Homo sapiens: one gene and its partners. The protein of the gene in region 3 interacts with the protein of the main gene of each other region in a pairwise test. Each region holds a gene or a part of one and is shown on either strand. Other genes may lie near its edges. The genes, in order: RNF20, POLDIP3, NCBP1 and BNIP2.

Region 1 (6,210 bases), 3.9 Mb from region 3:
TCACCATGCTACACATCACCAGAACTTATTCATCCTGCATAACTAAAACTTTGTACCTTTTCCCCAACATCTTCCGATTTCCCCAACCCTGGTAACCACCATTCTACACTCTGCTTCCAAGATTTTGACTTTTTTAGATCCCACATACAAGTGAGATCATGCAGTATTTGCCTTTCCGTGCTTGGTTTATTTCAGTTAGCATAATGTCCTCTAAATATATCCATGCTGTTGCACATATACACACACACACTCACATACAAACACACACCACATTTCTTTATCCATTCAGTGTACAGTTCTTTCATCTCCCTGGTTAAGGTTATTCACAATTTTTTTTAATGGTATTGTAAATGGGATTGTTTTCTTAATTTCTTTTTTATAGAGTTTGTTGTTGGTATATAGACACACAATTGTTTTTGTATGTTGATTCTGTAGCCTGCAACTTTACTGAATTCATTTATAGTTCTAACAGTTTTTTCGTGGAGCCTGTAAGGTTTTCTATATATAAAGTCATGTCATCTATAAACAGAAACAACTTTACCTCTTCCTTTCTGATTAAGAGGCCTTTATTTCTTATCCTTGCCTAATTACTCTGGCTAGGACAAAAGTAATGACAGCGAGCATCTTTATCCTGTTCCTGATCTTAAAGGAAAAGCTTTCAACTTTTCGCCATTGGGTATAATGTTGGCTGTGGGCTTGTTTTATATGGCCTTTATTATGTTGAGGTACACTTCTTTACACCTAATTTGTTAAGAGTTTTATCATAAAAGGATGTTGGATTTTGTCTACATTTTTCTTATCCCTCATGAATACGCAGATTCACAACTATGTATATACGTGAGTTGATCAGCAGAACGTCTGATTTTACTGCCCTTCAGGGATGCGTTCCTACCTTCAGCTTTTCATTTTGTGTAGTGACCTCCTCAAAGTCTTGCCGAAGTTTCTCCAGCTCACAGAGACGGTTCTGAGCCAACTCTTTGTTCTCCTCAAGCTCTGCATTCATTTCCTCAAACTGCAGAGAAGCAGAAAAATAGAGAATAAATAAGTATTCTTCTTAAATCATTTCTAAGCTTCCTTTCTTCACTGATTCGCTATTCCAGCAAAACCCCATGATGTCACTTGTGAACACAGTCCTAAGTACCTAAGCATGAAAGCTGACATACAGTCCAAAACATGTCCTGAGTCACTGATTTTACCTTCCGAGCATTGATAGTGATTGTGCCGCCATACAGACTGCTCCCCGCTCCATACACCTTATAACCTTTGGAATTCACCTACAGAGAACACAAAGATTCTTTAGTGAGAGACTCTTAAGATTTCAGTCTATAACCAATGTACCTTCAAAGGATGAGATTTTTTCCTCAAATACCATGCCCCAAGGTGAGTCTTCCTGAGAACACTCCTTAAAATGATTCTAGTCTCCAAGCCATAAAACAGCACTGACCCGTTCTAGGACTTCTGCTAAGTGTCGGTTGAGTCGCTGTTCCCTCTTTCGAATTTTGTCAATATCCCACTGCAGGTCATCAATCATGGACTCCAGGACAGACACTCGTGATTCGGCTGTCTCCACTTTACTCTGCAACTTGGAGAACTACATCCCAAAGACAAACATTCAGAAACATATAGCAAAAAAAGACCAAATTCCATAATATTAACCCTTGCTTATGAGTAATTATAGAAAAGAGGCAAATAGAAGATGCTTCACCCTCTTCCCAATGCATGATTACAAAAATGAAATCACGGATTCCTCCAACAATTCTGTGTCAGTTATAATCATGCAAACTTTAAGTCTAAAGTCTATAAGAACTCTCACACAAAGAAAAGACCACCTAAGATTCAACAATTTTTCTACCTCTGAAAAGCACCATTTCTCTGGACAGACCACAAACTCATAAAAATTTTGTAATTTTTTAAGAGATAATAAATAGTATCTTTTGTTTTGTAAGATAAATATTTTTTCAAAAAAACCATTTTTACCCCCAAATTTCTCTCCACAGTCCCACAAAAGGTAATCCATTCATTCACAACAAAAGAAAACTTCCATACTCTTTTTTAAGCTCACCCCAGAGCAATCTAGAGTCAGATACAATACAGTATAGATTATACTATAATCTAAAGTCAGATACTCTATTTAGGAGCTATACACCAGCTAACACTATTTAGTATTTTAACTACTAAACTATTACAAGTTCACATTAATCTATATATACCCTTTGTGCTAGGTTTTAAAACATGACACAAAAATCCTTTGAAAGTCCTCTGAACAAGAGGTGGGATCTTTGTTCCCTCCTCTTGAATCTGGGTCAACTTTAGAGACCCAATGGAAATGTCACTACACAATTTTGAGGCTATATCAGAAAGGCCATGAAGGTTCTACCTGGTGATCTTGGGATGCTCACTGGAAGAAGTCAGCCAACATGTAAAAATTCCAACCATCCTGAGACTACCATGATGGAGAGGCAAACTGCAGGTATCCCAGTAGACAATTAACCCAGCTGACAGGCAGCATCAACAGCCAGCCATGAGAGCCAACAAGGACATCACAGTTTAGCAAACAACTGCCCTCCAGGTTAGTAATACTATCTGAGATTTGTCAAAGGGCTAGAAAAGGAAGACCTCTCCATCTTGGTAGCACCTAGTCAATGTCTTAAAACATGATAAAAATATTCTATTTTCTTACTAGACTCCAGTTTATTTATAAGGGCTACTACATTCTAACCCCTTTGAAGGTCCAGGATAATCCATATGAATTAATAAATTCCCCAGATGATATTCATGCAACCAGGCCAGCATGGACCTTAACACTGGGGTTTAGTAAACAAAGGCATATGAAGAACAAGAGCTTTGAAGTCAAACAGACCTACAGTCACAACACAGCTCAATCACTTTCTAGCTATGTGCCCTCAGAATAATCACTAACCTCTTTGAATTTGTTTCTTTGGCAATAAAATGGGAGTTGTTTTGCCATTAGAGATAACATTCATAAAGTGCTTAAATTCTAGGCACTAAGTAAATGGCAACTACTAAATTACTAATTAGCATAAGAATTCAGTGGCCAAACTAAGGTGGGGCAAATTCCAGTAGAATATATTTTGAACTAAATCAAAATGATCATCAGAAGTATCAGAAAAGTCATTTAAGGCCTATCATCACTTTATCTTGATCATTTTGTGTAAATAAATAAATGTCCAAATCTTGGCATGGTTTAATCATGGCATTATTTGCACCCAAGTTTAGACTGAAAATTGACATTCCTCAAATTCCTAGGACATCATCAATACAGTAGTTTCTACTTCCCCATTCCCTGTGGAATTTCTACCACGCCATTCCTCAATAACACTATACAGTCTTTTATATTTAGGGTAATTCATTATTTGGAGGTTTGGAGTTGTGTTGTGTTTTACAAAATCCCCTATGATATGATAGGCCTTCTAGAGTAAGGTAATCTTTGAGGTGCTCAGAATTGTAAGTCAACATCTGCCACAGCCCACTAGACACAGCCATCTCTCCTTTTTGGTTAAGTACCTCCTGAGACATGGTGCGATGCTTTTCCTGAAGAAGATCTGTCAATTCCTGTAGCCTCATATTCTCCTGTGCGAGGAAAGAGTTCAGCTCCTGCACTGCTTCCTCCACTATCAGATTATCTGGGGAAGAAGAACTATACTTTAATTTAGCATCTAGAGTGTCATTTTTTTTTTTTTTTTAAGACGGAGTCTTGCTCTATCGCCCAGGCTGGAGTACAGTGGCGCGATCTCGGCTCACTGCAACCTCTGCCTCCAGGGTTCGAGCCGATTCTCCTGCCTCAGCCTCCAGAGTAGCTGGGATTACAGGCACATGCCACCACACCCGGATGATTTTTGTATTTTTAGTAGAGATGGGGTTTCACCATGTCGGACAGGCTGGTCTCAAACTCCTGACCTCAGGTGATCCACCCACCTCAGCCTCCCAAAGTGCTGGGATTACAGGTGTGAGCCACCGTGCCTGGCCTATAGTGTCAAATTTTAAAACTGTGTATCCTTGGCCAGGTATAGCAGCTCACGCTGTAATCCTAGCACCTTGGGAAGCCAAGGCAGGCCGATCACTTGAGGCCAGGAGTTCAAGACCAGCCTGAATAACAAAGCAAGAATCATATGCTCTTATCACATATTCTCATATCATATATTCTGAAATACTATGTTAGGGGCACTTCTGAAGCTTAAAAACCAAAATGTACACTACTATTTACAAAGCAGGTAGGTAAATCCATAGAACTTATTACACCAAGTTCGTATGTTTAAAATTAGAGTTGCAAATACTATAGCTGAAATCCAAATGTAATTAAATGAAACCAGATACTCTCAGGATATATACCACCCATCAAAGAGAGTTATCAGGAAGAAAAATATGCTTTCTCATATCACCTCTTGGCATTACTCTTAGTATCAATACAGAACAGGTTGGTCATATGGTGGTTTTCATGGTTTTCAAGCTAGGCTTGCCCATCAGAATCACTTGTGGAACTTTTAAAATAGACATTTCCCTAGGACCTATCTCATACCTACTTAATAAGAACCTCCATGGGCAAAGCCAAAAATAAGAATATGCTCAGAAAACTCCCAAGGTTATTCTGATTCATAACCTGAGTTAAGAAGTAGAGACTGAATTTTAGTCCTCTCAATATCCTAAGCACTGAGGACAGGGCTAGAATACAATAAAATTCAATAAATGTTTAGTGAATTTATAAACAAGCCCATAAATGCAATTCTTTTGAATCAAAGACCAAACAAACAGACAGTACTGCCCTGGCAGGTTAGACAGTGCCGCCCTGGCAGGGTTAGACAGTGCCGCTCTGGCAGGTTAGACAGTGCCGCCCTGGCAGGTTAGACAGTTCCGCTCTGGCAGGGTTGGACAGTACTGCAGTGGCAGGGTTAGACAGTGCCACCCTGGCAGGGTTAGACAGTGCTGCCTTGGCAGGTTAGACAGTGCCGCCCTGGCAGAGTTAGACAGTGCCGCTCTGGCAGGTTAGACAGTGCCGCTCTGGCAGGTTAGACAGTGCCGCCCTGGCAGGGTTAGACAGTGCCGCCCTGGAAGGGTTAGACAGTGCCGCCCTGGAAGGGTTAGACAGTGCCGCCCTGGCACGGTTAGACAGTACTGCCGTGGCAGGTTAGACAGTGCCGCTCTGGCAGGGTTAGATGAATTTATAGACCTTACTCTATAAGGCCTATACTTGCTCTAGAAGGCCTTACCTTACTCTAGAAGGCCTATCATATCATAGGGGATTTTGTAAAACACAACACAACTCCAAACCTCCAAATAATGAATTACCCTAAATATAAAAGACTGTATAGTGTTATTGAGGAATGGCGTGGTAGAAATTCCACAGGGAATGGGGAAGTAGAAACTACTGTATTGATGATGTCCTAGGAATTTGAGGAATGTCAATTTTCAGTCTAAGTCAGGGGGATGAACTTTCAAACAAGTTACAACTGATGCTATAATTCATACTTTATACATCTTTATCTCTTAGAAAGTTCAGCTTACCAATGGCAATTGCCTTTTGTGTTACAAATAATGGCATGGCTATTTGTAATGTTTCTACTTTTTAACTTAAACCCGACCTTAAAATGCATGCCATTAAATAGTAATTTTAAAGTCGTTTGATATACTACTCATTTTATTCCCTTTTTAAATAAAACAATTGTTTCACTTGATATTCATTTATGAAATCAAGTTTAACATAGTCTATGCACATGGCATATTAATTACCATATTACTAAAATTTAACAATACCTTCTAACTATTCAATTAGAGCCCAAGGAGAAAGAAGCATATGTGCACACACAAAGCACCATTATTTTATATTAGGTGACAGGGAGGTTCACATCCATTCATTCCCCATTGACTAAACATCTGCTAGATGCCAGATGCAGTGCTAGAAACTAGAGAAACAAAGAAGAGTGAGCCAAACTACTGAACCAAGACACAGTTTAGCTGGGGACATGCAAGTAGATGTAAGATATTAATACAAAAGTACAAAAGTCTGAGAGGACATAAAACACATTGTTTAGAATGGTTATCTTTTGAGAAATGAGAATGGGGAAACTTTTGTAGTCTACTTATTTGTATTTCTGACTTGTATATTTTTAAACAAGTATCTGTTTTCCTTATAATAAAATACAGAAATGCATAATCTAATGGAAAAGCAAAAGAAACCCGTGACCAAATTTTCAC
Region 2 (6,210 bases), on a different chromosome or scaffold from region 3:
GAATATATGGAAATTGAAACAATCCTAAATAACCAATGGGTCAAAGGAGAAATCACAAGGGAGATTAGAAAATAATTCAAGATGAATGAAAATGAAGGCATGATATACCAAAACACGGAATGCAGTTACAGCCATGCTTAGAATATATAGCTGTAAATGCACATACAGTCATGTATCATTTAACCATGGGAATACATTCCAGAGTGCAGTGGCACGATCACAGCTCACTACAGCCTCAACTTCCCAGGCTCAAGTGATCCTCCCACCTCAGCCTCCCCAGCATCTGGGACTACAGGCACACGCCACCACGCGCCCAGCTAATTTATTTTTTGAGACAGGGTCTTGCCACGTTGCACAGGTTGGTCTCAAGTTTCTAGGCTCAAGCGATCCTCCTGCCTCAGCCTCCCAAAGTGCTGGAATTACAGGCTTCAGCCACCACACCCGGCTGTACAGCATGTTACTCTACTGAGTAGAGTAGGCAACTGTATTTGTACATCTAAACGTAGAAAAAATACAGTAAAAATATGGTATTATAATGTTATGGGCCCACTGTCATATATGTGGTCTGCTGTTAACCAAAAAGTCCTTATACTGCATATGAATACATTAAAAAGCAGAAATAAACCTACAGAATGGGAGAAAATATTGGTAAATCACTTATCTGATAAGGGACTTAAGAATATGTAAAGTACTTCTACAACTCAGTATTTAAAAAGCAGACAAAGATTCTGTACAGGCATTTCTCCAAAGATAGCTGGGCACAGTGGCTCATGCCTATAATCCTAGCACTTTTGAGAGGCCGAGGTGGGCAGATCACCTGAGGTCAGGAGTTTGAGACCAGCCCGGCCAACATGGTGAAACCCTATCTCTACTAAAAATACAAAAAAATTAGCTGGGCTTGGTGGCGTGCACCTGTAGTCCCAGCTACTTGGGAGGCTGAGGCAGGAAAGCCGCTTGAACCGGGGAGGCGGAGGTTGCAGTGAGCTGAGATCACGCCACTGCACCCCAGCCTGGGCAACAGAGAGAAACTCAAAAAAAATAAAAAAATAAAAAAATAATAAAAAATAAAAATAAAAAAAAGAAAGAAAAAGGAAAATAAGTATCTTTCCACATCCAAACATATGACAAAAAATAAGAAAAAACAAAAAAAGAACAGAAATTCAAAACAAAATTAATTTCTTTAATGACATACAAATGGCCAATAAGCACATGAAAAGGTGCTCAACATCATTAGCCATGGGGAAATGCAAATCAGAACTCCACTGACTCACCCAGGGGAGTTCACCCAGGTGCCAAGATTTAGCCAAGGCTCCAGGTCTTTTATTTGTAATTTTTTTTATTGTTGTATTGTTTTATTAGTCTCTGCTTCTCCACTTCTAGCACAGGGCCTTGGTCCACAGTAGGCACTCAATACATACTGAAAGAACAAATGAGTGGAAAAGGAGCATGGCAGACAGAATTCTTCTCTACAGGCTGTCTGGAGATGAAAAATATGAACCTCAAGTCAATAAAGTCTGTTGTTTACCCACCAGGAGCAGCTCTCACCCAGGTGTCAACATTCAGACAAAACTCCAGGGCTGGGAGGAACTTCTGCCCTAGCACTAAACAGATCAACATCTGGGAGGCAACAGCTGTGCCTCTTGGCTCCCCTGGCAAGACCCCTTAAGAGAACCATCCATGGAGAAATGCTGTTTTCCTTTTTGCTGGGCTCAAAAGCTTAAGGGCTGGGTGAAAATCCAGGGCCCTGTGTAACCCACAGCTCAGGACTACTCAGAGACTGCACGGCAGTTCCTGGTGCAGACGAGGCCCCAGAGATGGGTTCCACCCATCTCACAGAGACTTCCCCTGGAAGGCCTGCTACCTGACAGCAAGTAGAGATGAGTGGGAGGGTCAGGGGACTGCTTTCTCCCTAACTTACCGTCCAGACACCGGTTGTTGTACTTCTTATATGCGGTGATGGCATCGTCCTTTTTCACAAACACCACCTCCGCTACCCCAGGATGGACCAGTCGAGCTCGCTTGAGGGCCCCACACACACAGAAAAGCTCCTGCACACAACAAGAGGGGTTGGGATTGGGGAAGGATTTCTCAGCACCTGCCGCTCACACACTCTGAAGGCCCTGGGGTGTGGTGGTTCCGCTGCAGCTAAATGCGCCCTGCGCCTGAGACTGCGGGGAGGCTCCACGCGAGGTGGTGCTCTGGAGACATCCACAGGCTTCAACACAGCACCAGATGAGGTCAGCAGTGGGAAAGGGGCTGGGTTTACAAGCCTTGGATCACCTGGGATCTCCCAGCAAGCCACCACCAAAGTCTTCAGTGCCCACCTCAACAGGGATAAAACAGTTATGAAAATTTTCGCAAAGAGCCCTGTCATTAGAATACATGTATACAAAGAAAGACAGCTGCTAATATGTCACCTGAGAATCTGTTACAAATACAAATTCTGGAGTTCTACCCAGAGTCCTGGTTTGGCTGGACTGAAGGGTTTCCCTGGACATGAGACTTTGAGTGATGAAACCAGGAGAGTCCCCAGCAAAACAGGGACAGTTGGTCACTCTAAGTCAGACCTGAGTTTGATCCCCCAGGCTCTGCTTTCTATCTGCTATGAGACGTCTAGCAAATTACTTAACTTCTCTGAGCCTGTTTCCTCCTCTGAAAATAAAAAGGACTAGCTTACTTCCCAGCTTTACTGGAAAGCTCAACTGAGATAATTTTTAAGGCAGTGCTTTGCACACATCATTGAGTCCGATCTCCACCTCATTTTACAGACAAGACGACTAAGGCCAGAGAGGGAGCAAAATGTGAAGATGGACAGAGGCTGACTAGCACTCACGCCATTTCTTCACCTGCAACTGCCTTCACAAGGTTGCTGTGAGGGCCAAAAGAAGGTTTATGAAAAGGTCCTTGACATGGTTTGTTTTTAATGGTAAATATCAAAACAAGATGCCCCTCTGCACCTGCAGGAGACTGGTTCCAGAACCGCTCGCAGATACTAAAATCTGTAGATGCTCAAGTCCCTGCTATAAAATGCTGTAGTATTTACACATAACCTATGCACATCATCCACTATACTTTAAATCATCTCTAGATTACTTATAATACCAAATACAATGTAAATGCTATATAAATAGTTATACTGTATTTCTAAAATTTGTATTATTTCTCATCATACTGTTATTTTTAAAAATTTGAGTATTTTCATTCAGTGGTTGGCTAAATCCACAGATGCAGAACCGACAGATATGGAGGGCCAACTATAAATAGTAGGTGTAATTCCAATTTTATTACCATTGTCCTTTTAACATTGCCTATTTGGGTAGAAGAGAAGCGAGGGTGATTATTACTAGCAATTTCCCCTGAGCACTGATCATGACTGGTGTTTAGTTTTCCACCATTATGTATCTTCCAAGAGTCTGCCTAAAGTGACTGGCACATAGCAAGTACTCAGTAAATGGCAGTTGTTATTACGCTCCTTAACAGCTTTAATTCTTTTCTTTTTTTGAGAGAGTCTCACTCTGTCACCCAGGCTGGAGTGCAATGGCGTGACCTCGGCTCACTGCAACTTTCACCTCCCAGGTTCTAAGTGATTCTCCTGCCTTAGCCTCCTGAGTAGCTGGGACTACAGGCACGTGCCACCACGCCTGGCGAATTTTTCTGTTTTTAGTAGAGACAGGGTTTTGCCATGTTGGCCAGGCTGGTCTCGAACTCCTGACCTCAGGTGATCCACCAACCTTGGCCTCCCAAAGTGCTGGGATTACAGGCGTGAGCCACTGCACCCGGCAATCAGCTTTAATTCTTAATGACTTGTCAAGTATTACACAAAATAGGCTACAATTTCCATCCTCACGTGCACCATTCACAGTACTGTCCCTGCTAAAGGAGAAGGAGATACGAGTGACCCATCTCACGGCATGCGTGTGTTTCACAATTAAGATTTAACCTCAGCTGGGCACAGTGGCTCACACCTGTAATACCAGCACTTTGGGAGGCCAAGACAGGCAGATCATGAGGTCAGGAGTTCAAGACCAACACGGCCAACATGGTGAAACCTCGTCTCTACTGAAAAATACAAAAATTAGCCGGGTGTGGTGGCACACGCCTATAATCCCAGCTACCAGGGAGGCTGAGGCATAAGAATCACTTGAACCCAGGAGGCGGAAGTTGCAGTGAGCCAAGATCGCACTACTGGCACTCCAGCCTGGGCGACAGAGCAAGACTCCATCTTTAAAAAAAACAAATCGAGGTGGGTGGATCATTTGAGGTCACGAGTTCGAGACCAGCCTGGCCAACATGGTGAAACCCTGCCTCTACTGAAAATACAAAAATTAGCCAGGCGTAGTGGCAGGCGCCTCTAATCCCAGCTACTCGGGAGGCTGAGGCAGGAGAATTGCTAGAGCCTGGGAGGCAGAGGTTGCAGTGAACCGAGATCACACCATTACACTCTAGCTTGGGTGACAGAGTGAGACTCCATCTCAAAAACAAAACAAAACAAAACAAAAAGATTTAACAAATGTAGTGACCAGTGCAGTCTGTTAGTCTGGGACTTAACTGCAGGGAGAGGCTGGATTCTCCAAACGTATTCATTTTGTGATCTGACAGTTCAAAGGATGCCTGGATTTCTAAACTAATGGCTCTTTTGGGTGCCTGAATGAAAATGATGTTGAAAAGAAGTCCTAGCTGCATCCAGAACCCCGCTCACAGACATTTGACAGGTTTTGCCCATGACTGCCATGGGTGGGACGGGATGGACCAGGAAGGTGGATACCACCAATCCATCTCACTTCTTTCACTTTGGAATCATCTTGTAATACCTCCAAAGGACACAGGAAAACACAACTATTGGATACTGCCCAGTGGGACTAAAGGATCCCATTTAGGACCCATTATAGCATAGATATCCCCTGACTCTGAGATTCAGGCCAGGCACCTGGCCTTGGCTAGAAGCTGTGCAGAAGAGTGAAGCAGCTGGGCTGACTGCTATTGTTTGAAAGGTCCGATTCCAGGGGTGGCCCTTGGCTGGCATCTGAGAACTCGGATCTCAGGAGGGCTCCTGCCACCCCACAGTTCACTGTGCCTGGACTGTGCAAACAACATGGTTTCTGCTCAACAGCTGCTTTCCCTCTGGGAGTCTGGAATTTTAGTACATGCTACACAGAGAATGCCGAAGTGACCAGCCCCCAGTAAAACCTTTGGGTACTGAGTCTTTAATGAGCTTCCCTGGTGTCACATGTATTGTCACAACTTGCTGCGAGTTGCACCCAGCATCCTGTGCGACTCTGCTGGGAGGGGCCTCTGGAGGCTTGTGCCTCGTTTCCCCCCGACTTCACCCCATGAGCCATTTGCTCTGCATCCTTTTGCTGTCATTAGTCTCAGCCCTGAGCGTGACTATATGCTGAGTCTGGTGAGTCCTAGCAGTCATCAAACCTGAGGGTGGGTCTTAAGAGACCTTTGCCACAGAGGCAGTTTGAGATTTAAATGTTTGGTAGGTCACAGTACTTACAACAATGTCCTCCTCAGTGACTCGAGGGTGCAGATTATTCACAGTCATCTTGGTGCCTTCCAATGGGCTGAGAACAGGCTGCCACACAGACAAGAGCATTACCAGAAGCCAGATGGCTGATAAGCATTCCCACAACAGAAATTCCTCCAGGCACGTGACTAGGAAGGCCCAGAGGAAAGCTCCATGGAGAGTTACCACAAATGGGCCCCCTGAACTTCAGTGTCCACTACACCCCCCATCACTCTATGCTAAAAGCATGGACCCTCTCCCATCTCCCAAATACGCAAGCCTCTCAGGCCCTGAGCCTCTACCTGGAAGGCTACTCATGCTTCCAGACCCACTCAGCTAAAAGAGCCCTTTTTCCCAGACTTCCCAACTGGAATGAGATAATCTGTCCTCAGCCCTCCTAATAGCTTTCTTCTGAGAGAGTCTAACATATCACCAGATACCGCAATCTCTCAGCAGGTCTGCCGTCCCCACTAGCCTGCAAGGTCTTTGAGGGTAAGAGTCCCTAGGTCTTGGTTTGCTCATCTGTAGAATGGGGGTGGCAATGCCCACCTCACAAAGGCGTTGTGGGGAACACAATGAGGTACATATAAGCATACAGCCCTCCTGACCCCAACTGCTGCAGTCACCACCATCACCTCACCTCAGCAGCTGGCAGCTCTTTGGGGGGTTCTTCCTTGTTCACCAGTGTCCGGGACATGTTG
Region 3 (6,210 bases):
TACCTCCTTTTTTCTGCCCTCTCCCCAGCTCATACAGTGGCCACTGTGTACTGAATAACCCATCTAGAAAGCTGAGCATTAATTTTTGTCTTCCCTTTGCCCTCTCGTACCATAGGTGTTCCCAATCCCTGTCAATTCTGTCTCCCTAATTTCTCTCAAGTCTGTCCTTTCTTAGTCTCCAGGGCCTCTAGCATAGTTTATGCCTTCCTCCAGATGTTCTTAATAGCCTCTTAACTGATCTTTTTGCATCTAGATTCTCTGCTTTTCACTTTGTGTTCTACAGTGGCACCAGACTGGTCTTTCTATAACTAGGCTCTGCACATGTTGGTTACTGGTTAAAAAAACCTTAGTTCCTTCCCATTGTCTACAGTGAGTGGTCTTAAAAGCCTGGTGCACAAGATGATTCCTTGGGTTTCAGGAAGTGAATATTAAGAACTCTTATTTATCTTAAGTGGAAATGAAATTAAACCTTACTAATAATACATAGATTAATGGTGATCCAGTGTATATCATAAATACATATGTATGTGTTGAAGATATGTGATCAAATTCTTTTTTACTGAGTACACAATCAAAAAAGTTTGGACACCCATCAGGCTATAGGATTAAAGTCCAGACTCTTTAGCCTGACCCTTTATGGTTTCCCCAGTCTGTTTCTCTATTCTTGTCTCCCATATGCTCCCCAGCAATATCAAAATAACTTGCAGATCCCTAAACACACCTTGTTTTTGAACCTCTATGCCTAGACTGCCCTCCTTGCTCACTACTTGAGGCTGTTGCTATCCTTTATGACCTAGCCTAATTGTTACCTCCTTTGTGATGCTTTCCCCAACTCCCTTTGTCATTGTTCCTAAAAAATGCTTAATTTGCCTTTTAGTGTGGGAGTCATTCCTTTGTATTGAGATTGTGCTTGTTCCACTAGAATGGGTCCCCTAACAGTGACTTTTAGTAGTGTTTAGCAATAGCACACTAAGCACACCCAATAAATATGTGTTCTGTAATTTCCATTTCTGTAATTCAGTGAAAATTACAGCCAAACAGAAAAGGAGATTATAGGTTGAAGTAGCTAGAATATTTTACAATCTGGATTCTTGATGTAGTATAGCATAGAAACGTATGAACTCACAGATTACTGTCCTTTATATAGTCTTTGTTACAACTTCTCAATTCTGCCATTGTAGCACAAAAGCAACCATAGACAATATGTAACTGAATGAGCGTGGCTATTCCACTAAGTTTACTTATGGGCACTGAAACTTGAATTTCATGTAATTTGTATATGTCATAAAATACTCTTGATTTTTTTTTCACGCATTTAAAAATGTAAAAACCATTTTTAGTTCCCAGCTATGCAAAAAACAGGTAGTAGGCTAGATTCAGCCCTTAGGCTATAGTTTTTTAGACCAATAGTTTAGCCTATACAAGATTGCTTATTTTGTAGTTATTATAAAGAACATTTAGGTTTAATAGCAGAAATTGTTTGCCCCAACAGGTCCGTTTTTTATCTGATCTTGTGAATTGTCATGTGATTGCCGCCCCATCAATGGTTGCTATGTTTGAAAATTTTGTAAGCGTAACTCAGGAAGAAGATGTACCTCAGGTAAGAGAACCCCTCATGCTGAATCTTGAGGGGTTCTTGAGGGGTTACTGAATCCTGGTACTTCCATATAGTACCAGGAATTTTTCGCTGATAACCCATTAGCAATAAAGAAAAAAATAACAGCAGACTATCACACTTTAAGTTCTTACTATCTAAAAATTAAGCTGACTGGCACACTGGTGGGTTCTCATAATATCTGTATGTTGATTTAAATGATGCTGTCTAGTAAGATTAGAACTAATATATCTAGAAATGCTCTGTATAAACCAGATGTCTTATTTAAGTCCTATTAAATAGCTTCCATAGGATTTCATTCAAGAATAAATAAAATATGAATGAATATAATTAAAGCATATTTTAAACTTAACTTTTTAAAAATCCTTTAGGTGCGACGAGATTGGTATGTGTATGCATTTCTGTCATCTTTGCCCTGGGTTGGAAAGGAGTTGTACGAAAAGAAAGATGCAGAGATGGACCGCATCTTTGCCAACACTGAAAGCTATCTTAAGTAAGGGCACAGCTCATAGTACTCTTTGTTGCTTAGGTAAAGGATATCTTATATCAGTGATACCATTTGAGTTTCTCAAAAATAAGCTGTAGAGTTCCTGAAGGTATTTTCTAGGTAATCCTGTTCTCCTGCTGTTTTAACTCACTGAGACCTCAAAGTAGTCAGATATGGTTTGCTTACTTTTGCCAGTGCAAAGGACAGTTGGCAATATAGCTTCTTTTAAGCTGCTTTTATATGTTTGTTTATAAAAGACATAAAACACCCTAGTGCAATAGTTCCTCAAATATTAGTGTGGATAAGAATTACCTGTGGTACTTAAAATACTCAGACCCCAACCCCCAGACCTGATAAATTATACAATTTGAGAGAGAGGTTTGGACATCTGTATTATTAACACATTTCACAAGTGGAGAACCACTGTCCTAGCACATACAGTATATTTAGTTCATGTAAATTAATCTTAAATCAAGCTCTTAAAACAGTGGTCCTTAACCCTCCATCCAGCCAGTACTTCTTAAGTAATATGACACATTTCAATTAAAATAGTCACATGTCTTCCCATTACTCATCTCTCCTAAGCCAATGTAAAAGCTTGGTTTATATTGTTAGATACAATAATAATAAATAGGTCTTTTTAGTAAATTTATGCTTAACTATCCAGCAACATGGTAATGGTTATGTGGCCCTTAGGTTTTTACAGATTGATTTTGTTGTTAAGTTTCATTTTCTCTTTTTTAAGTGCTTTTTTTGGATAACTGTTAATAGCTACTTAGTTGGTTATTAAGTAAAGTTAAAAGAAGCTTAAAAAATAAGAATCTTTTGGCCGGGCGCAGTGGCTCACGCCTGTAATCCCAGCACTTTAGGAGGCCAAGGCAGGTGGATCACCCGAGGTCAGGAGTTTGAGACCAGCCTGGCCAACATGGTGAAAACCCATCTCTACTAAAAAATACAAAAATTAGCCGAGCGTGGTGGTGGGTGCCTGTAATCCCAGCTACTCGGGAGGCTGAGGCAGGAGAATTGCTTGAACCCAGGAGACGGAGGTTGCAGTGAGCCGACATGGTGCCGCCACTGCACTCCAGCCTGGGCAACAGAGTGAGACTCCGTCTCAAAAAAAAAAAAAAAAAAAAAAAGAATCGTGTGTGTGTGTATACATATCCTTTCTCTTTTTTATTCAAATGATAGCCCAATATACACACTGTTCTTCACTTGGCTTTTTTTTTTTTTCTTACTATAACTTGGATTTGTTGCATAAAAATACTTAACTCTACTTCATTCTTTTTAACAGTTGTAGGGTATTTCACTTTTTAATGTACCATGATTTCCGTAGTCTCCTGTTGGTGGACGTTTAGGTTATTTTCAATCTTTTGCTCTTATAAACAATGTTTCAGTGAATATCTTTGTGTATATGTTTTTATGTACATGTGCAAATATATTTATGGGGGATATAAATTTTTAGAAATGGCATTGCCGAGTTGAGGGTTCTAAACAATTTTGATAGATTTAGTCAAATTACCTTCCAAAGAGATTATACTTTCCCAAAGAGATTATATCAGTTAACCTCTTTGTCAACAATGTTTGAGACTGAATCTTGACCTGCATCTTGATGATACACAGTACATTATCAAAACAGTTGATATCTGCCACTCCAGTAGGTAAAATGTTATTTCATTGCTTTAATTTGCATTTTAATAACTGTGAGGGTGACTGAGCATCTCTTGTTTTTAAAAGCCTAAATGTAGATTTTCATTTTTATCTTTAGAAGACGCCAAAAGACTCATGTACCCATGTTACAGGTATGGACTGCTGATAAACCACATCCACAAGAAGAGGTAAATGGATTTCAGTCCCTTGTGATACAAACACAGTCAGCTCTTGAATAGATTCTTATCTCTGTAAGATACTCAGACCATTCCATTTTACCCTTTGACTGTGTTTCTACATTTCATGATAGTTCCTTCTCATAGCTCAAGGTGTATGGTAGGTCTTTAATAGATGATAGAATGTAATTGAAATATTCCCTTGTTCTTTGGAATGCCAGCTATTACAGAGTTGACATATATTTATTTAAATGCTTAATTTGAAAAATGTCAAAACAGACAGTTCCAAACAGGTAGACTTTGTAAGTAAAATAAAAACAAAAACTTAGCACCTTTTTTTGTACCATCTTACAAGTTAGCTTACTTTTGTATCCTGTATTTTAAAGGGTAGTGATTTTTTCATTTTGTCTAGTCAAAATGTTAATTATATTAATGATTAAAAATTAATCTGTCTTTAGTATTTAGATTGCCTGTGGGCCCAGATTCAGAAATTGAAAAAGGATCGCTGGCAGGAACGGCACATCCTAAGACCTTATCTTGCCTTTGACAGCATCCTGTGTGAAGCACTGCAGCACAATCTGCCTCCTTTTACACCACCTCCTCACACTGAAGATTCAGTGTACCCAATGCCAAGGGTCATCTTCAGAATGTTTGATTACACAGATGATCCCGAGGTAAGTGACCGACTAAAAGTCCTAGATATTGACCTGTGTTGCATTGTGCTTGTGGGTTAATCCCGCTTGAATTATGCCTGTGGTATGTTTTAATTTTGAGTTGTTTTTATCTAAGAAGGTCAGTAGCAATGAAGTTAACTTTTTAATTCAGTGAATGATATCACCTCATTATGCAAGAAATTATATTTGGCATGTGTAAATAGATTACAGAGACGTGCACAGTTTGCAGGCTAAGAGTGTGGGTTTTGGGTTTTTAGAGCTACGTTGGTTTGTGTTTTAATCTTGGTTTAGCCAAATACTAGCTGTGTTAATTTGGGAAGGTTATTTACCTCCCTGTGCTTTCATTTCCTGAAGGTAATAATAATAGTATACATCTCATAATAGTAGTATATATCTCATGTTATGAGGATTAAATTATTCACATGTAAAATGCATAGAACAAGAACAGTGTCTGTCACATGATGAATGCTCAGTCATTCTGGCAATTTTTCTTTCTTATTTTTTTCTTTTCGAAATGGGGTCTTACTTTGTTGCCCAGGCTGCAGGTGAGATCTAAGCTCACTGCAACCTCTGCCTCCTGTGCTCAAGCGATCCTTCCACTTCAGCCTCCTGAGTAGCTGGGACCACAGGCATGTGTCACCTAGCCTGGCAAATTTTTTGTAGAGTTGAGATTTCGCCATGTTGCCCTGGTTGGTCTCAAACTCCTGGGCTCAAGCAATTCGTCCGCTTCGTTTTCCCAAAGTGTTGGGCTTACAGGCATGAGCCACTGCACCTGTCCATAATTATACTTAATAAGGTTATTTCTCAGTAAAAGTACCTAGTTTTAGGTATGGTCCCTCTCTAGGCAACACAGCCTGTCTTGTGATTATTCATATTGTATGATTATTTGAAAACAAATGTTGGAAGTATTTTTAATTAAAAAATTCCAAAGATTAGTCTAAGCTGACTTTATCATTTTTAATATACATGTTCTTTATTTCAAAGTCAAGTTTCCTGGCAGCCATTGTACTGTTATAATTGTATATTGTACAATTAAGAAAATTTATAATTTTCATTGTGGGTACTATCCTGTGTATTGTAAGATGCTCAGCGGTGTCCCTGATCTCTACCCTCTAAATGTCAATAGCACTCTCCCTGCCTCAGTTTTGACAACCAAAAATATCTCCAGAGAGTGCAATATGTCCCCTCAAGAGCAAAATTGCCCCCAGTTGAAAACTATTGCCATAAAAATTAATATTACCACCTAAGTCAAATTTGAGTTTCTTCTATTGTCTCTTTTCTGTTCTATGGTAAAGTGCTAATGACCAGTAGGAATTTAGTATATATGTAATCTATTTTGGAATAAAAATTTCTCAGATAATCAGTTACATATACAAAATTATCAGCTTGCTGCCGTCTTTGCTATATTCCATATGTAACCAAATACTTTAGTCAAAATTATGTAATGATCTACTTAGATATGTCTAACTGAAAATCTGGTTTACATTTAAGACTGCTAATGTTTGTGGTCGGGTATTTTTTTTTTTTTGTGCAGGGGAAACTAGAATGGGACCTCAAAATTTGTTTCTCCTGAATTTGTATTTAATTGGTATCACCTCTGTAAGGTGCATA
Region 4 (6,047 bases), on a different chromosome or scaffold from region 3:
GACATCAGAAAAAATATGGAATTTGTACTTTTTATTTAAATATATTGTTTGAAACCTGTCACTATTTTATCTTGATTTTTTTTTTACTTGTGTTTAACCATAAATAGAATGATTACATGTATCTTTCAAAAACGTTCTGTTTTTTGTAGTTTCTTTAGTCTTAAAAAATAATAAATTTTTGTCAATCTGAAAATGATAAAATTTAATTTTTAAATTAAATTTAGGTAGAGAGGCATGTTTTGTTTTGAGACAGAGTTTCACTCTTGTCACCCAGGCAGGAGTGCAATGGCCCAGTCTCAGCTAACTGCAATCTCTGCCTCCCGGGTTCAAGCGATTCTGCTGCCTCAGCCCCCCAAGTAGCTGGGATTACAGGCACCCACCACCATGCCTGGCTAATTTTTGCATTTTTAGTAGAGACTGGGTTTCACCATGTTGGCCAGGATGGTCTCGAACTCCTGATCTCAAGTGATCCACCCACCTCGGCCTCCCAAAGTGCTGGGATTACAGGCGTCAGCTACCACGCCCAGCCTAAACCAAACTTTACAGAAGCTAGGTGCAAGGGAGCTTATTTAAGGTGACAACTGCATGATATGATAAGTAGTGGTGCTAAGAAGAGTATGAAGCTATGAGTCCCTATGGCAGGTTTTTGGGGAGCAGGGGAAGAAGGGGCAAAACCATTTTCTTGAGGGGCTTGTGGGGAAGAGGGTTGAAGAAATGTTGACAACAGGGAGATCCAGTGTCCCCAGTGACAGAAAAAGGATAGCAGTTTAAATGTTTAAAATGTTTCTTTCAAACAACTGGATGCAAGTGTGGCCATGCAGATACAGATTGTTAAAATGTTTCAGGGGAGTTTAAAAATAATTATGAAATTAGTTGGTAAGGATATTTCAGATGTTAAGAGGATTTGATATATTTTGCATGCCTTATCAGAAATACATTCCAAATTTTTTATAACAATATTTTAAATATTTTAAAATGTTACTTTGGCTTTACCACAGACCAGGGCTTTTAGGTCTGTTTCACTAATATTCAGGTGGGCATAGTAATGGGTGATGAGAATAAAAACATATGAAAAATATTTTTCTTTATCTAATACCGGATTGTTTTAAAGGTCCCTTCATCAGTTATTCAGACCACTACAAATGTAATAGTAATAGACTGTTAGCTTTGAAGGGTTGTCTGTAATTATTATGTGGTAATTATGTAATCCTTCTAATGCCCACATGCGTAAATTTTGATATGACTGATGTCCAACCCACCACTAAATAAATAAGCTTTTTGATGGGTTTTTGTTTTGTTTTTTTGAGACAGGGTCTTGCTCTGTCACCCAGGCTGGAGTGCAGTGGTGCAGTCTCGGTTCACTGTCGCCTCCGTCTCCAGGGCTCAAGCAATCCTTCCACCTCAGCCTTCTGAGTAGCTGGGACTACAAGTGCACACTACCACACCTGGCTAATTTTTGTATTTTTTGTAGAGACGGAGTTTTGCCATGTTGCCCAGGCTGGTCTCAAACTCCTGGTCAAGCAGTCCGCCCGCCTCGGCCTTCCAAAGTGCTGGGATCATAGGTGTAAGCCACTGTGTCTAGCCAATAATTAATTTATATTAGATATTTTTGAATGTTAAATTCTTTTTTTTTATTTTATTTATTTTTTTAAGACGGAGTCTCACTCTGTCACCCAGTCTGGAGTGCAATGGCATGGTCTCAGCTCACTGCAAGCTCTGCCTCCTGGGTTCAAGCGGTTCTCCTACCTCAGCCTCCCAAGTAGCTGGGACTACAGACGCGTACCACCACACCTGGCTAATTTTTGTATTTTTAGTAGAGATGGGGTTTCACTGTGTTGGCCAGGCTGGTCTCGAACTCCTGACCTCGTGATCCACCCGCCTAGGCCTCCCAAAGTGCTGGGATTACAGGCGTGAGCCACGGCATCCGGCCTTGAATGTTAAATTCTTAAGGCTTCTTACTGTCAAAACAAATTTAAGGCATTCACAAACTGTGTACCAATAAGTTTTGGAGAATAATTATGGGTTCTATAAGGATGCATTTTTTATCACTGAATTTTAAAATATTGATTGATAATTGGTGGCCTTCATGGCATTTTCATATTTTAGTTAACAGAATCATTTTTGAGGGAGTTGTTTTTCCTGCCATTTTCGTACCACCTGGATCCCTACCACAGCCAAGTTACAGGTCAAGATTTTAATATGCCATGTAATTTGAACTTTTAAGAAAGTTTATGGCTGGGCACGGTGGCTCACGCCTGTAATCCCAGCACTTTGGGAGGCTGAGGCAGGCAGATCACGAGGTCAGGAGATCGAGACCATCCTGGCTAACATGGTGAAACCCCACCTCTACTAAAAATACGAAAAATTAGCCGGGCATGGTGGCGGGCGCCTGTAGTCCCAGCAACTCGGGAGGCTGAGGCAGGACAATGGTGTGAACCCAGGAGGCGGAGATTGCAGCGAGCTGAGATTGTGCCACTGCACTCCAGCCTGGGTGACAGAGCAAGACTCCGTCTCAAAAATAAGAAAAAAAAAAAGTTTATATGCATTTGTATGTAAAGTATTTTATAATCTTTAAAGAAACAACGGTCACATTTCTTGCCAGTGTCCTCCTGCCTTTAAAAATTCTCTTTTCTGGTTGGGGAAATGATGTTTGGTAACTGTTTTTACTATGTCTGCTTCTTTGCAAAGCTTTGTCTTTAACAGAGTAATATTCTATGCTAAAATAGTCATTATTTTTAGAAAGAAAATTGTTCAGTTGCTGGTTTCTTATTTTATATATTCTTCATTAAACAGAGTTGATCAAGAACTTAATGGAAAACAAGATGAACCGAAAAATGAACAGTAAGTTTGGCATCTAGTCCAAACAAGACTGAAGAATGTGCTGATGGAGCAGTGCTGTTTCTGCATTCATAATGCATTTATTGGCCCATATTTTTATGTAACCTGTTACAAAATAGACTTGACTTTTTCATAATGGACTTTTGTATTATACAAGGGACTGTTCACTGCTGTACTGGTTTGCAAATTTCTTGAATTTAGCTCTTTAATAGCTAACTGTATTATTATCGTTTTATATTTTATATTGCTAAATAGAGAACCACACTTTATATAAAGTAGTTTTTGCATTTGTTTATTGAATGATGCATCTTCTTCGGTGAAATATTTATATGCATAAATGGCAAAGGAAAGAAATAATATATATTTTTATGTCATTGAGCAATATTTTTTAATGTGTACCTGTCTTATGGAAGAAATATGCAGGTATATAAGACCACGATTTTCTAAAGTGCATATTAGAATTTTTGTTTTTGTAAATGGTTAAATACATTTCCTGGGTAACTTAGGAAATTAAGTTTTTCATAAGGCAACAGATGGTTAAACTGATTGTCATGAATACCCAAAGATCATGTATATAATCGAAGTGTATTAGTACCATCCCAAGGTTTTTTTCTCATTTAACATATTTGTTTCATAATTCAGCAAGTACAGATGCAAGCGCATTGCACACTTTTTCCTTTCTAAACTTAAAGACAAGTCAAAAAGCCATTCTTAGAACTAGAGGATTTAAGAGGGTAGGAATTAGGGTTTGTATATATGTATATATGGGACATTTTATCTTCTGGCCCAAAGTCAGAACTTTATAAAAATCTTGAGTTTGTTCACTAATGTGAAATAAGCTATGTGTCCAGGGTATTGCTCCCCTGAGTGTATATGAGTGCTGAGTAGTATTGCAGAGAATGTGATGAGTTATTCACTGTCACAACTTTTTCTATAGAAAACAGGGGCTGCTTTTTAAACTCTCACTATGGGCACTTTACCAAAATACTTCCATATCAATTATTTGAACTCGGTAGTTGTTTGACCTAGTTAGATGTGGTGTTTATTCAAGTTTGTATGAAATCATGTTTGACAATACTGTAAATTAGGTTAATTTTGTAAGTCTTAGCATCATCATATTGTGCTGTTTTGGATAACACGTTTGTTACAAGCATTTAAACTGTTTCATTTGGTAGTACCTTTACATTGAAATAAATTGTGTTTGTGCCTCCAAACAAAAAGTTTAATTACCGACAAAATTATTTCTAAAACAACAGATTGATCTGATATTGTGTCATATACTTGAAAGGCTCATACACAGCTGGTAAGCATAATACCTTCCAAATTTGAAGGTCATGGCTACTCTTCAACCCTTCCTGTAAGGTATTTTACAAAACAGTGGCCTAGAGTAGCAAAATTGAAGTGGATGTGAGCTAACCTTTCAAGATTTAGTCTATCCTAGATTGAACACACATGTGGCTGTGACCATTCTCATGTACTTACAAACCTTCTGTTACAAAAGGGAACTTTCCTATATTTTTTGTCCTCCTCAGTCCTAAACTTGGCATGCTAACTTAAAACCAGTTATAGGAGAGAGATGCTGGAGGATTCCCAGGATGAAACATTCCTCAGCAGCCTCCTGACTTAACTCAGATCCAGCAGCTCTTGGCAGATCCTGAACTAATGTCATTACAGTGAATTGAGCCAAAACGATTATTGCTTGCTCACATTTTAGGAACACTTGTTGTTGAAGAAGCAAACTAACAATAACAAGTTAGGCATTCCTTCTGAATTTACCATATAAGGATTATGTATAAACAATTATATTGAATTTGTCATTAGATTCTATATTTGTAGACGATTTAACGTAGTCTTTCATCTGTACATCTTTATCTTGCTCAAAATGGGCTGAGGTTTTTAATAGGTGGTTTTCTACCACATTAAGTACTTGGTTCTTCAGTTTAAAAAATATGAAGAATAACTTCAACTCTTTTTTGCATTATTTTGATTTTTGATTTTGCAGTCATTGCTCCTAACTGTAGATACATGTTGCAAAAGTGATGTTTTTCTGAATTTTTTTTAAAAGTAGAAGACTATTCTGTTAAACATTAAAATTCAGAGACAACAGTGATAACACCTGGGATATAATGAAAATGAGGTGCTGTGAATCAGTAAACTAAAGGGATACCTGCTTTAACCTGCACCTTAATGGAATCTGGTATAGAGATGTACCCACAATAAATGTTTTATAAGATTTAAGATCATAATAGTAGGTTAGAGGAAGAGCATTTATTAAGTCTGTTGTTTCTAATCTATAGCTAAGTTAACATTTCCCATATTATTCCATTTTAATTTCCCATTACTGACCAAGGTGAAAGTATATGTGATTGTACTTTTATCTTTCTGTTGGGATCATGGATCTAATTTAACTGGCTTAATTTGATGCTTCTGTCACTAGGCTCTAAGTGCCCCTTTTTTAGTCAGAAGTTTTTCATGTGAAATAATTTGATTCTGTGTTCTGCTTGATCATACTCCTAAGCAAGCACCAAGGGAAGACGTTCTATTCACCCCACAATTTAAGCTTAACAATCTTTAACTCAGAGGGAGATATGAAGAAATATGATTCTAAGTAGGGTCTAGCAGAGGCATTGGAAAGTGATAAAAGTAGGAAGTAAGAGAAAGCAAACCTTTATAAAGAGATAAAGACATAGTTGTTACCTAAGATGCCACTGTATGTGTGCCCTCTCTTTTTTTTTTTTTTTTTTTGGAGACAGAGACTCACTCTGTCACCCATTCTGGAGTGCAGTGGCGCAATCCTGGCTCACTGCAACCTCTGCCTCCCGGGTTCAAGCATTTCTCCTGCCTCAGCCTCCTGAGTAGCTGGGATTACAGGCACACGCCACAATGCCCGGCTAATTTTTGTATTTTTAGTAGAGACGGGGTTTCGCCATGCTAGGCTGGTCTCGAACTCCTGACCTCATGATCTGCCTGTCTCAGCCTCCCAAATGCTTGGATTACAGGCTTGAGCCACCACGCCCGGCCATGTGTGTCCTTTTAAGGGAAGTACCATATGTGACTGCTGATGGTAACATTTCTTGTATGCAGCAGGAAAACCTGCAGGCTATACGCAAGGTATGTGAATAAAGACTGTGGATTGAAGGGGGAAAAGTTGATAATACATACCCATGATAAGAATTCATATTTTCTCTTTCTTTGTCTCTTCATACAGA

Evidence for each region.
Region 1: the proteins of NCBP1 (region 3) and RNF20 interact in binary tests that used the Homo sapiens proteins (3 or more experiments, as listed by UniProt).
Region 2: the proteins of NCBP1 (region 3) and POLDIP3 interact in binary tests that used the Homo sapiens proteins (3 or more experiments, as listed by UniProt).
Region 4: the proteins of NCBP1 (region 3) and BNIP2 interact in a two-hybrid assay, tested with the Homo sapiens proteins (one study listed by BioGRID).

What each region holds. Positions count from the first base shown.
Region 1 is NC_000009.12:101,542,201-101,548,410, reverse strand, and holds part of RNF20 (E3 ubiquitin-protein ligase BRE1A), read right to left. Parts: intron 3,645-6,210; coding exon 3,526-3,644; intron 1,592-3,525; coding exon 1,445-1,591; intron 1,275-1,444; coding exon 1,197-1,274; intron 1,013-1,196; coding exon 893-1,012; intron 1-892. UniProt on the Homo sapiens protein: Component of the RNF20/40 E3 ubiquitin-protein ligase complex that mediates monoubiquitination of 'Lys-120' of histone H2B (H2BK120ub1).
Region 2 is NC_000022.11:42,590,037-42,596,246, forward strand, and holds part of POLDIP3 (polymerase delta-interacting protein 3), read right to left. Parts: coding exon 6,150-6,210; intron 5,579-6,149; coding exon 5,501-5,578; intron 2,049-5,500; coding exon 1,919-2,048; intron 1-1,918. UniProt on the Homo sapiens protein: Is involved in regulation of translation. Is preferentially associated with CBC-bound spliced mRNA-protein complexes during the pioneer round of mRNA translation. Contributes to enhanced translational efficiency of spliced over nonspliced mRNAs.
Region 3 is NC_000009.12:97,643,625-97,649,834, forward strand, and holds part of NCBP1 (nuclear cap-binding protein subunit 1), read left to right. Parts: intron 1-1,492; coding exon 1,493-1,600; intron 1,601-1,986; coding exon 1,987-2,108; intron 2,109-3,867; coding exon 3,868-3,937; intron 3,938-4,383; coding exon 4,384-4,599; intron 4,600-6,210. UniProt on the Homo sapiens protein: Component of the cap-binding complex (CBC), which binds cotranscriptionally to the 5'-cap of pre-mRNAs and is involved in various processes such as pre-mRNA splicing, translation regulation, nonsense-mediated mRNA decay, RNA-mediated gene silencing (RNAi) by microRNAs (miRNAs) and mRNA export.
Region 4 is NC_000015.10:59,660,867-59,666,913, reverse strand, and holds part of BNIP2 (BCL2/adenovirus E1B 19 kDa protein-interacting protein 2), read left to right. Parts: intron 1-2,793; coding exon 2,794-2,845; 3' UTR 2,846-6,047.